2 linked regions of the Homo sapiens genome follow. The protein of the gene in region 2 interacts with the protein of the main gene of each other region in a pairwise test. Each region holds a gene or a part of one and is shown on either strand. Other genes may lie near its edges.

The links.
Region 1: the proteins of PKIB (region 2) and LY6D interact in a two-hybrid assay, tested with the Homo sapiens proteins (one large-scale study listed by BioGRID and IntAct).

The regions. Positions count from the first base shown.
Region 1 is NC_000008.11:142,784,382-142,787,984, reverse strand, and holds LY6D (lymphocyte antigen 6D precursor), read left to right. Parts: upstream 1-1,445; 5' UTR 1,446-1,468; coding exon 1,469-1,520; intron 1,521-2,297; coding exon 2,298-2,396; intron 2,397-2,528; coding exon 2,529-2,764; 3' UTR 2,765-3,103; downstream 3,104-3,603. UniProt on the Homo sapiens protein: May act as a specification marker at earliest stage specification of lymphocytes between B- and T-cell development. Marks the earliest stage of B-cell specification.
Region 2 is NC_000006.12:122,609,104-122,613,204, forward strand, and holds the start of PKIB (cAMP-dependent protein kinase inhibitor beta), read left to right. Parts: upstream 1-1,301; 5' UTR 1,302-1,432; exon of another isoform or gene 1,433-1,532; intron 1,533-4,101. UniProt on the Homo sapiens protein: Extremely potent competitive inhibitor of cAMP-dependent protein kinase activity, this protein interacts with the catalytic subunit of the enzyme after the cAMP-induced dissociation of its regulatory chains.

The DNA.
Region 1 (3,603 bases), on a different chromosome or scaffold from region 2:
GCCTGACTGGCCCCAGTACCCACGGTGCTCCCAAAAGCCTCAGCCCAGCCCAGGACCACCCTCCTCGGAACCGGCCCTGCCCTGCCCTGGGCCTGTTGTTGTCTGTTCATCAGCCACGTGGCAGCGGCGGCAGGAGGCTGGGCCCAGGGCTGACCTCCATCTGTGCCCCGGCTCCCACTCACCTTCAGCCTAGCCAGGGCAGGGGCAAAGCAAGTCTGTGGGCCCCTCCACACCACTCAGGTGGGTGCTGCCCAGCACAGGCGAGCGGCAGAGCGTGCTGGGCTGAGCAGGTGGATGGGGGCCCCAAGAGGTGGGCTCCTGCGCGAGGCGGTGGGTGCTCAGAGACCCCGTCTCCAGGGAAAGAAAGTCCCTCCTGTGAGTATAAAGAGGGTGAAGGCGGGGACTGGCCTCCACTCAACGGGCAGCAGACCAAGAACCTGCTTTGAGGCCCTGGGTGCTGGGGCCCAGCCCCAAAGAGTTCACGATTTTGGGGAGACTGGAGCCGGGACACCTAGAGCAATAGTTACAAAGTGGCCGGGATGGCGCTGCCCCCAACGTAGCAGGAGGGGCCTGGAGAGTGGGGGAAGGAATCCCACGGGGAGGGCTTCTGGGGCCCTGGAGGGCGGGAGGCAGGGCTGGTGGAGACCAGGAGGGCTCAGTCTCTCCCTGCACAACGCAGGGTGGAGTTGCTGCCTCCACAGCCCGGGCCTTCTGCCCACAGGGCTCCCCAGGCAACTTCGAGGGCCGGGTCCTCACAGTCCTCACTCTGTCCAGTGCTCACCTCACTGCTGCCCCAGCTGCCCTCCCTGCCTCGGAGTGGCCTCTGCCTCTGCCTCTGCCTCACACACCCCATCAGCCCACAGCCACCCCGAGCCCTTGCAGCTCAAGGACCTTCTGCATCCCCGGCAGCAACCCTGAGCCCAGAGCCAGGAGAGTAGGACCAGCACCTGCCCTTCCTACCTCCCCTGCCCTGGACACCCACGGGCACCCACAGGGCACCGGGCACAGGCTGCAACTCTATTGAGGGAACTATGGGGGGAATGCAGGGACAAAGACACAGGATGGTGATGGATGGTGGGGGGTGGGGGGCGGGGGGTAGCGGGTGGCAGGTCAGAGACAAAGTGACCCAGGAACGGACGGCAGCGAGAGAACAAGACCCACAGAGACAGAGAAGTGAAAGTGGGAGAGATGGAGGCACAGCAGCAGGAACAGCAGGGCCAGGAGGCCACTGGGCCCCGTTGCGGAGGGCAGACCTCTGCCTGGCGGGGGGCAGCAGGGGCAGCGCCCAGCGACAGCCAGGCTGGTGGGCGTGGGCCAGGCAGGGTGGGGCAGGTGCCCGTCCTGGGCTGACGCTTGCACAGAGCCCTGCAGAATGCCGCTGGCTGGCGGACTGCCCACCCCCGCCCAGCCCGTGCCTATAAGGCCTTGGCAATGCAGGGGCCCGCACTGCTCCCAGACGACATCAGAGATGAGGACAGCATTGCTGCTCCTTGCAGCCCTGGCTGTGGCTACAGGGCCAGGTGAGGGGCTGGGCCAAGGGGACGGGCGGGTGGGCGGCTGTGGCCTGTGTGGTCACCAAATACTAGGAGCCTGGAGCTGACGACATCTAGGCACAGAGAACCCCGACACTGTGGGTGCTAGACTCTTCAAATTTAAAACAACATGGAGCCCGAATCTTAACGAGTGTCAGATTTACAATGTTTCAGAATCTGAGGATCTTAGAACTGACTCCTGGAGTCACGGACCCTGAGAGAGTGGAGCAGGGGGTTGTCTTGAGATGCTTCTCACTGGGAGAGCGGCCATCTAGTCCCTGCCACCAGCCCCTCCCGGTCCCCAGGTCTCCCCCAGCACAGCCCAGGACAGCCCAAAGGCCACCAAGCCCTTCCTGTCATAGGCTCAGAGCAGCCAAGCTGGCTGCCCCCGGGGCCTTAGCTCCGTCAGGCCCTCAGAAACATAGCCATCTCCTCCAGGGACATCCCCTGGGGTGGGGACAAGAGCCAGTGTCCTCTTGGCAGTCGCAGAGCTCCCTGAGACCTTGGAGGAAAGGCTTGCAACACACCCTAGACAGGGGCAGGGCAGGACACCTCTTCCAAGCCGGCCCAGGCTGGAATACATGTCCCCTGAGGCTGCACTCAGGGCACATGCCCTGCCAGGACCCAGAGCCCGGGTTTGGGGGCCTAGGGCAAGGGCAGCAGGGCCTCTGTCCAGGAGGGGTCTCTGCAGGTGGGGGAGCAGGCCCTGCTGAGTCACCAGGAGGCCTCTGTTGGGCCCGCTGAGCCGGACTCCCTCCCCGCCAGCCCTTACCCTGCGCTGCCACGTGTGCACCAGCTCCAGCAACTGCAAGCATTCTGTGGTCTGCCCGGCCAGCTCTCGCTTCTGCAAGACCACGAACACAGGTGGGTAGCATCTGTCCAGGTGTCCCTGGGGCTGGGGGACATCCCTGGCTGTTGTGGGTGTTGGCTGGAAGGTTGTGGGGAGGTGGGGGGCAGAGGTGGCTGCCTGGCCTGACCACACTCACCTGTGCCCAGTGGAGCCTCTGAGGGGGAATCTGGTGAAGAAGGACTGTGCGGAGTCGTGCACACCCAGCTACACCCTGCAAGGCCAGGTCAGCAGCGGCACCAGCTCCACCCAGTGCTGCCAGGAGGACCTGTGCAATGAGAAGCTGCACAACGCTGCACCCACCCGCACCGCCCTCGCCCACAGTGCCCTCAGCCTGGGGCTGGCCCTGAGCCTCCTGGCCGTCATCTTAGCCCCCAGCCTGTGACCTTCCCCCCAGGGAAGGCCCCTCATGCCTTTCCTTCCCTTTCTCTGGGGATTCCACACCTCTCTTCCCCAGCCGCAACGGGGGTGCCAGGAGCCCCAGGCTGAGGGCTTCCCCGAAAGTCTGGGACCAGGTCCAGGTGGGCATGGAATGCTGATGACTTGGAGCAGGCCCCACAGACCCCACAGAGGATGAAGCCACCCCACAGAGGATGCAGCCCCCAGCTGCATGGAAGGTGGAGGACAGAAGCCCTGTGGATCCCCGGATTTCACACTCCTTCTGTTTTGTTGCCGTTTATTTTTGTACTCAAATCTCTACATGGAGATAAATGATTTAAACCAGTGTGGCTGTGGCTGTGCTATTCTGGGACGGAGGAGCTGAGGGGCGGATATCAGGCCACATAGGTACCCTGAGCCTCCAGCACATGTCCCCTGGGGCCAGTCGTGGGGTGATGCCTGAGGTGGCACCGTCCGTCCCCACCCTGGAAGGGGCAGGCTGCTCAGATGCCTCCCACCGCCCCAGAGGTGGAGGGCACTCCTGGGGTGAGGCCTGAGTAGGAGCACAGGGTAAGAGGGCTCGCAGGCCCCTCCCACACATAGCACCTAGGGGAGAAGGAACCCCTCAGCCTTTCACCCCGGGTCATGTCTCTGAGACCGGGGTTCAGGAGCCTCCAGAGAGGCCGGCTTGGGACACCCCAGGCCCAACCCCAGCTTTGGAGCCAAGTAGGCACTGACTACCTACAGCCATCGCCAAGGCAAGTCCAGCTGCCCAGGGAAAGTTCAGCCACCATCCAGGAAAGTCCCATGGACCCTATCTATGGGAACCCAGCAGCCCCTTGGCCA
Region 2 (4,101 bases):
TTAGGCGGGTGCAGAAGCTACTGCAGTTTTTGCCAGTACTTTTTTGCAATTACTTTTGCACTAACCTAATACAAAACAAAATGTGCCTACATCACAATTCAGAAAAATCACAGCTTTATTAGCAGAGTATAATTTAAGGAAGTCAATCAATCCTGAAGGCAGAAAGACCTAAGTTCAAAACTGATTTGGAATCTTCTCAGCTATTTAGCCTTGTTCAAAGTATCTAACCTTGCTGAACCTCAGTTTACTATCTGAAAATAGAGAAAATTATTACTATATTGTGGAGGTATGAATATTGAATAATTTAAAGAACTTGATTGTACTACCATTAGCACACACTGAATAAAATATTAGTCTGATTATATTTTCGTATTTCCATATTTAGGCTTTTGCCTAAAAAGGGAATTTGGAAGTGGTCATTGGCAGGTGTCATAGGCTTTGGGTGGCAAGTCAGAGCATAGTATGAATGAGCAAATTAGTAAAGACTAGAGATAAGAGAAGACTTTGAGTACTAATTAAGAGTTTCAGGAGACCAGAGGAGATTTTAAGACTTCAGTGAGAAACCACTTTCTCAGGAAGCAGATAAATTAATTTTATCAGCAGTATCGTCGTCCATGTAATATGGCTTTTAAAAAGCACAGTGAGACCTTAGTAGTAACGACTTTATTTTTCTTAGTGAGAACCTGAAAGTGAAACTTGATATACATTATTTTCTGCTTTTATTGCACAAAAAGTTGTTTCCATTGCATATTGCTTCCTAATCTGTTAAAATAATCTGTTAACAAACTCGAAGACCCAGATTCGGGGCGTAGATAAGCCTGTGTACCTTCCTACCTTCTCCAAACAGCCAACATTAGATCAAAGGGCAACCTTAATGACACCTGGAGCACAAACCCTGCTCAGGGCGCGTACAACCGGAGGGACAGAAAACACGATGCGACGTCGGAAAGCAGGAAGGGAATTGAAATTCCCGCAGTCACGTCACAGAAATCTTAGCAGAACCTCATCATCGCCCAAGGGAACTGGGAGTGGCGGGCGGGGAGGACGCGGGTTGTGTGACGATCACCGATAATTAGTTGGTGGTTAACGCACAAGTAGGATAAAAGAGCTCGCCCCAGGCTGCCAGCAGAAAAAAGCTACCGTGGCACGTGCCCCGGGGAGTGATGCGGTGGCCCGGTTTGCACGGAGAGCGGGACACCGCCTGGGGAGCCGCGCTCGTAGCCTGGGGGCGGGACGCGGCGGCCGCTCCCTCCGCCCCCGAGTAGCTGCCACCGCCTGGCTGCGCCCCAGCCCAGTAGCTCAGACGCGGCCGCATCCCGGTGGACTGTAGAGGCGGCAGCGAGCTAGAGCCCGAGTCGCAGCTCCGGGCCGCAGAGCGCTGGGCGAGCGCGAGCGCCAGGGCACCGGCAGGGCAGGCAGCTGCGCGCGGCTGGTACGTACCTGGTGGAGCGGGCGCGTGAGTGGGTGTCCCTATGCGAGGAGGGAGGAGTGGGACTTGGGAAGTCGGGGGAGACTGACCCAGGGAAGATGTGGTAAGTGCAACTTTCCTATTTTCTGCCCTGCTGGCACAAATATGGGGGGAGTTCGAAGCAGATGCCTCTTTCGCTTGGGCGACCCGATCCATCGTTTAACTCACAAGTCAGGGTACTTAGAGAGTGAAAAGGACGCTCACGCCAACAGGCGTGACGTGGGAGGTCTGTCACCTGCCTTTTGCCCACTCTGCCCTGCAGGTGGCCATTGATGACCTCCTGTCACAAGTCGCTGAGTCCTTCGGCTCTCGCGCCAGCAATGCCAAGTCTTTCCCCTGGGCGGTGCTTACCAAGCCCCGGGTAGTCACGAGCGGCCGCGGGGTTAGCAGAGACCCGAGTACTAACCCGCTCGGCCAGCGTCCGGCTGTGTGGCTTTAGCCAAGTCACCTCACCTCACTGGCCTCCGTCCATTCTTTGGATAAAATATGGAGGTGGGTAGACCGAGTAAACTCAAGGGTCGCCCGTAGCTATTGGATTTTCCCTGCTCCTAGGACCCCGGCAGGCCGCAGGGAGGGACACGAGTGCCAGGTGGTCGCGGGCTGAGGGAGCGGAGGGCCTGTGTTCCGGTTGGTGCTGATGCTAGCCCCTTGGGGAAATTCCTGAAGGTGCATTTCGGAGCCAAATGACCCTGCCTTGCAGCAGGTCCCTTCCAAGGGAGCTGAGAGGGCCAGGTCAGACCGGTCTTCGTAGAGCTCCCCGGGGAACGCAGCCAACGGAACTCGGGTCCTTTAGAAAAGTGCATGCGTGAACTAGGCATGTGGGAAGCACTAAAACAAACAACAAACAAACAACAAAACACCCTGCAGGTGGTAGTGTTATTAGCTGGAGTCTGTGCAGGACTGGAAAGTGGAGATTTGAGGCGAATGACCACTTAAACGTTCATCTAGAAAAAAAATTTTAAAAAAACTCTTTTATCAGTGGTTTGCATACTGAAAGGTATTGAATTAGAAATATTGCGAGTATTGCATTTCTCTTCGTGTACAGATAGATTTCAAAATTCATCTGTCCACTTTATCTCTTCACAAGATGCCTTCCTTCTTACTGACATTGCCACACATTCAAAAAAAATCCTCCTGGGATTTTATATTTAGAAAGCTCAGCATTTGGATTATTAAAATGAGAACTGATGACCATAATGCTCACGGAAAATGGGGTAGGTTATGGATCAAGTTTGGTTAAATCAGCAGTTTATAAACCTTGTTTCCTGTTAGTGTGCCGGGTGCTGGTCAATGCCCCCCTAGTGACACTATCTCAAGAGATCATTTGCTAAAAAGGTGTTTTGGAAGTTCAAAAGATTCGATTTTGAAGGAAAGTATAGCTTTGGAAAGGAAATCTTTTGGAAAACGTTTTTAGTAATGGACTTCTCAATCTTATCTTTACCACAACTTTCTTCAATAAAATATCAAAGACTAATGGACCACATTATGCAGAATATTTTAAAATGTGTCAAATTTCATTTTTGTTAAAGAGTTTTTCCTCCTTTTTAGTCGATTGCAAACATATTGTTTAGATCAATGATAGATCAATTTAATTTTCCTCACAGTTCTTACAATTATTTAAATTCTTACGCAGTTTGCATTACAGCATTTTTTTACAACTTTATTGAGATATAATTTATATATTATAAAGTTCACCCTTTAAGGGTGAATAATATTTAAAAATTATATTTCAGTGAGTTTTAGAAAATTTGTTAATTTTCTAAAAGTTGTAAAACCATTACCATATCTGGTTTTAGAACATTCCAAAATTGTAAAACCATTACCATATCTGGTTTTAGAACAGTTTACTCACTTGGTAAGATTCCTTATGTCCATTATGTCTTTGTTCCCACTCCCATTCCCAGGCAACCATTAATCTACTTTCAGTCTATAGATTTGCCTTTTCTGAACATTTTATATAAATGGAATGATATACTATATGGTCTTTTGCTTATGGCTTCTCTTACTTAGCATAATGTTTTTGGGGTTCAGCTATGTTGTGGCATGTATCAGTATTTCATTTCTTCTTATTGCTGAATAGTTTTCCATTGTATGGATATACCACATTTTGTCAATTTACTAGTGGATGGATATTTGGGTTGTTTCCAATATGGGAATATTATGAATCATGCTGCTGAGAACATTTGCATTCAAGTGTTTGTGAGTACCCGTTTTCATTTCTCTTGGGTAGATGCTTAACAGTGAAATTGGTAGGTTGTATGACAAACTTGTGTCTAACTTTTAAGGAACACTATAGAGTAATTTTTGTAGAAGTTATATATATAAAAATTTAAAAAATTCTGGAAAAATAAATGTTTCTTACTGGATCATATATGATGTTATATGTATATAGAGAGAGGCTTGGGAGAGGAACCATTGCTTCTCTTCAAATTTAGAGCTGAGGTACAGCAAACACTTTTGAAAAAAATGTCGCAATATTTCTCAGAAACGAGATATTTCTTGCCTAATGTTTTTTAATGCTAAATGAGCATGAATCAGGCTTAATCAAGACTAAATTTTCATTAATGTCAATTGAAAATGAGAAAGCATGCAGTTTGAAAATTGTATTTTAAGTGTTGAGACTTAGCCAGCTC